2 separate regions of the Homo sapiens genome follow, and region 2 is linked to region 1. The links come from fine-mapping of genetic effects on gene expression. Tissue or cell type: testis. Region 1 holds a variant in brackets; the other region holds the start of a gene. All regions are shown on one strand. Distances are from middle to middle.

The links. PIP is the estimated chance that this variant, and not a neighbour inherited with it, causes the effect. A credible set is the group of variants that fine-mapping cannot tell apart.
Region 2: it holds the start of PLUT, and the variant in region 1 is the best candidate, but not a certain one, in a credible set for the expression of PLUT in testis (GTEx, PIP 0.83).

The regions. Positions count from the first base shown.
Region 1 is chr13:27,856,912-27,859,595 of GRCh38, reverse strand. The region is part of intron 1 of PLUT (PDX1 associated lncRNA, upregulator of transcription); the gene reads left to right. Among named protein-coding and RNA genes, the nearest start is that of PLUT, 59 kb to the left of the region's middle. The variant C/T (reference allele first, on the strand shown) is at 1,131.
Region 2 is chr13:27,915,788-27,918,471 of GRCh38, reverse strand. PLUT (PDX1 associated lncRNA, upregulator of transcription) reads left to right here and starts at 1,181. Exons shown (of 5, transcript NR_047484.2): 1 at 1,181-1,322.

The sequences.
Region 1 (2,684 bases):
CAGTGCACCTGGCCAGTTTCTGTCCTTCTCATCTGAAAGATGAGTCTATCATCCATTCTGTGCCTTCAAATGCACCTTCTGAAATGATGACCCCAAATCTACATTTTCAATACCACAGCATCTCTTGAGAACTTGACACATCTTCAATTTCTTGCTGAAATCTCCATTTAACTATTTCTGGCATTTCTACCTCAACAACCCAAGGTTGAATGTATTTTCCTTCCCCCAAACCCTCTTCTTCCTGTAGTCTGTATTTTGGTGAATCCAGTCACCCAGCCTAGCAACACAGACTCATCCTTCACATCTGTCTGTCCGTCCCCTCCCTGCCTGCCCCTGTCAATCACTGAATCCTATTGATGTTATTTGACTTCTTAAAAACTTTAAACGTTTTTAGTGGATAGAGAATATATTCATATAGTTCAAATTCAAAAGGGCAAAGAATGGAAAATTTTTCTTTCTGCCTCTATTGGCTATCCATCTAGATCCCCATCCAGGAGGTGACCAATGTGATCAGTTTCTTGCATAGTGGATGCACTTACATTTCCTAACTAATTGCCAATGATGGACAAGGCCTATAGGTTTTGTTTTGTTTTGAGAAAGAGTCTTGCTCTGTCATTTGGGCTGGCATGCAGTGATGCGGTCTCAGCTCACCACAACTTTTGCCTCCCGGGCTCAAGCAGTCCTCCCACCTCAGCCTCCCAAGTAGCTGAGACTACAGGCAAAGCTAACTTTTTTCTACTTTTTACTACAAGCCCAGATAACTTTTTTCTTTTGTTTGTTTGTTTTTTTTTTTTTTCAGAGATGGGATCTTTCTATATTTTCCAGGCTAGTCTCAAACTCCTGGCCTCAAGTGATCCTCCCATTTTGGCCTTCCAAAGTGCTAGGATTACAGCACTTTGGAAGGCCTATGGGTTTTGCTCTGGTGGGCTGGGTGGTGCTGAATCTGCCTCTGGTAATGTAACTGCCCGTGATCATGCAAGTAGTAAGAGTCAGAGCCGAATCCAGGTCCATCCCAGGGCCATTGCCAGCCCTGAGGAAGAACCTGAGGGGTTAGCAGTCAGGTGAGGTGCAAAGAGCCCATGTCCTAACCCAGAGTGAGGGTCGTCCCCATCCTGGGTGGGGCTTAGGCC[C/T]TTCCAGGCAAAAATCACTTTGGAACGAGATTTACCTTGGACCCCTGGGTGTCTTCTGAAGGAGTGGAAGCCTGTTGGCCTTATCTGATGCTGAGAACTGAGTGAAATGCTGCAGTTTGAATTAGGGCCCGGGGCTATGTTTGAAATGTGTGTGAGTAGGTGGCTGGCTTTGAGCAACAGGCTTTGAAAAGGCTCCATCCCTCAATGTGTCTGGTCATACCAACCAGGTTTAAGCTGCCAGACTCCTGCTTTCCTGACAATGCCCGAAAACAGTCAGCCCGCACCAGCTGAGCCTTTTACTCAGGAGAAAGAGAGGGCCATTGCCTCTCTGTAGGACAGCCTGAGGCAACAGGTACACACAGCCGGGGTGGATGGCAGGGCAGTGCCTTCTCTGACCTGACCCTCCTCCCTGGCCAGCAGTTGTGGAACTCTGGTAGAGAGAAATAATCTCTCTTTACGTCCCTCTTTGCCTTTCATTCCCATTTTTCTCTTTCTCCTGGGTCTAGGGAAGAACGAGAAGGTGCACTAAAGCATGTTGTGTCCCTGCTGCAAAATCCACTTATCACTCAAACCAGTCCCCCATCAGATTAGTACAGGAGAGTACCGTGCATTCATCTCATTTCCTACTGTGCATCAGAACCCGGTGGGCATCCTCTCAGTCCTCTCTCTGGAAAACCAATGGCTGGATCCATTTTCTGGCCTGATTACTTGGAGCCAGTTATAGAAGCTGAGGCTCCTAGGACCCTAGCCATTGAGGAGGCTTCCAGCAGCAAAGCTCGGGAACCGATCACGAGCCAGACATCTGCCTGGGCACTGAGGAGTTGCAGGGAAGTAACAAGACACAGCCGGGGAATCTGCAGGCAGCAGGAGAGCAAGCAGCTGCTCCGTATGCTACCAGCGTGCTCCTACAGACAGGTGCAGCTGGTGGGGGAGCCAGCAGGCTGCTCAGCCAAGCCTGGGCCTCACCAGGGTGCTCCAATCAAAGCCAGGGAGGGTGTCTATGAGTTGGCAATGATACAGGATGGGGCCAGAGAAGAGCTGGGAAAGGAAGTGCTGGGAAGGGAAGGGCGTGGTCCTCTTAAATAATAATAAGGGGGAAGGGCGTGGTCCCTGGCAAGCTCCACCCCCCCCGCCCCCAGCCAGGCTCCTTCAACCGCACCCCCTAACCCCGCCAGCCTGTGACCATGGACCTAGGTGAGGACAGGCATTTTTTATTTTATTTTAGTTTTTGAGACGGAGTCTCACTCTGTCACCCAGACTGGAATGCAGTGGCACAATCTCAGCTCACTGCAACCTTCGTCCCCTGGGTTCAAGCGATTCTCCTGCCTTAGCCTCCCTAGTAGCTGGGATTACAGGCGCCTGCCACCGTGCCTGGCTAATTTTTGTATTTTTAGTAGAGACGGAGTTTCACCGTCTTGGCCAGGCTGGTCTTGAACTCCTGATCTCGTGATCCACCCACCTTGGCCTCCCAAAGTGCTGGGATTACAGGCGTGAGCCACCGCGCCTAGCCAAGGACAGGCATTTTTGTTTTCCTGCCCAAATGTTGCTTTTCCC
Region 2 (2,684 bases), 59 kb before region 1:
TGGCCTGTGGCCTCATGTGTGTGGCTCTGATGTGTGGCTCCCTGGCTTGTAGATGCCCTTGCTGTCACCGAAGACAGGCCAAGGGAAGCACGGCGGCGGGCGGGGAGAGTTTCGGTGATTTCTTCAGGGAAAAGTGCCACCTGCAGTTTTGGTGGGGGCAGAGAGTGAAAGGCCGTGGGGCCCGGGCACCTAATCTCTGTGCGCCCGCGTCAATGAGTCCATTGTCTGCGGCCGCGGAGAACTCTACCCTATCACCCTGGCCGCGAGTGACCACATCGATCAGGAGGGCAGGCTGGAGGGGGTTGCCTGGCCGCGGCGTGTTGACCCTTGGAGATAATCTGCCGAGTCGCCGAGGGTTGACTTGGCGACGCGGTTATGAGCGGACGGCAAGCTCCGCTCAGGACAAAGATCGGCCACTTTTCCCCTCCCCCTCCTTTTCCTCCCCCTTCCCCTCCTCCCTGGGCACCCCTACACCCACTCTGGACTCAGTCTGCGCCCCACTCTCCCTCCCCTGCTCCCTGCCTCGCCTGCCACCCCCGGAGTGTTTACTTTGCACTTCTCAACTAATTGCACATTTCTGTAAATTGGTCTCCATTTCGATGCTTCATTTGCTTCCATTTAATATTTTTGCTCGGCCCTGCAGAAAGAAAAGAGGCTCTCAGCAGAAAGCAAATCCGCCGGTTGCGGTCGCCGGCAAAAACCCGGGTACCCGCGGCTGTGGGGGAGGAGGAGGGGATCGCCGGGGGTATTCCATGGAGGCGCGTTCTCACTTTCACAATTAGCATTTTCTGCTGCCTGCGACCTATAGAAGGGACCCAGGGAGCAAAGGTCAAACAACCATTTATTATTGTTATTATTATTATTAGATGAAACAAAGTTATCTGGAATTTTATCACGTACAGCCGTATAAAAAACGCATCAAGCGGAACCCTCCGCTTAGTAAGGTCGTGTGTTGTACTTCCCCGTGGATCTAGCTCCTGGTATCGTAAAATCGCCGAGTCCATTACAGGCGAAATGCGTTTCCGCTCTGAATCCCCGCTGACGCCTGCGCCCCCTCCAAGCCGCCTCGCCCACAACAGGCCCGGCAGCGATACCGAGCCATTAGGCGAGCACCTTCCCGAGCCATTTAACAGCAGCTCTTATGGATAAATAAACAAAAAAGGCTGTAAACCAATTAAAGTGTGGACAGTGAAAAAGTCGTTTATTAGCTGGACGTCCTGATAGTCCTCGCTGATACTGGAGGTCCTTGCCGGCCCTCTTCCCCCTTTCCCTTCACAGAGACGCGGTTTACACCCGGGAGAACACAGGTTACCTTGTTCTTGGTAAGTGGCTAAGTCTTCCTCGGTGGTTTCAGAGGCATGCTAAGGGCTGAATTTGGCTTGGTGATAGGATTTTTAAGCCACTGCATCCCATTATAAATGAAAAAAACAGATGAATCCCACTTAACTCCAAGGTATACATCATGAATGCACGTGGAATTTATATTCATTTTATAATTAAATCTCTGTTGAAAATAAAAATTGTTTCTTGAGTTGGAAAATTCTGTAAAGCAAACGATGTGATGTGTGGAATGAGAATACTTCTATAATTGATTGCACTTTAGTTCATTAGCATTTCCTTCAATGAGCACTAATGCAGGCAGGTTTTCATTTTCCTAAGTCGAATCAATGTTTCCCTCCTGCTGGTTTATGAATACCCAGAATTGGCCGAGGGCGGTGGCTCACGCCTGTAATCCCAGCACTTTGGGAGGCTGAGACAGGCGGATCATGAGGTCAGGAGATCGAGACCATCCTGGCTAACATGATGAAACCCCGTCTCTACTAAACCTACAAAAAAATTTAGCCGGGCGTGGTGGCGGGCGCCTGTAGTTCCAGCTACTTGGGAGGCTGAGGAAGGAGAATGGCGTGAACCCAGGAGGCGGAGCTTGCAGTGATCCGAGATCGCGCCACTGCCCTCCAGCCTGGGAGACAGAGCGAGGCTCCGTCTCAAAAAATTAAAAATATATATATATATATAAATAAATACCCAGAATTTGGTATCCAGGTCTGAGAGGGGCCAGGGAAACCCAGCTTGGGTTGTGGGGATTGGAGAGAGGAAAGGACCTCAGACTTTGAATGAAGGGTTTTCCAATATTCCTAGGGCTAAGCAATCTAGTGAAAATAAGCAGAGAGCTGAAATTATTTTCCAGATGATTCAGTGATCCCTGAACTGTAAAGATAAAAGCAGCTTAAAAACCGAATTGAATTGGGTAATTGTCTTATTCCCTACCTTGTTAGCTCTCTCTGGTGTAAGAGGAGTAGAAGGGCAGGAGGGGGGACTCCGTGTGCCCCAGAACTGTCTGCTGCTTCCTCCAGCCACTGCTCAACGCTTCCTCCCTGGGAGTGGGGCCCCCAGGCACGAGCTCTTTCCACTTTTGGTTTAATCCTTCCGTGGTCCTCAGTTCACTCTGCTGATGAAAGGAAAAGTATGAAAGGACTTTCAGGCTCCAAAGGATCTGAGGTCAGCTGTTGCTCCCCACTCCTGGTGTTCCCGGTGGCTCACCCCCTACAGCTCTGGACTCACCCCTTTGGTTGTCTCATCTCTGGTTCTACCTTCCAGATGTGCAGTCTCCAGAAATCCCTGCTGCTTCCCTTCTGAGCTTAGTCCTAGGTAACCAGCTCCTTGCTTCCACACAGTTCCTTTTC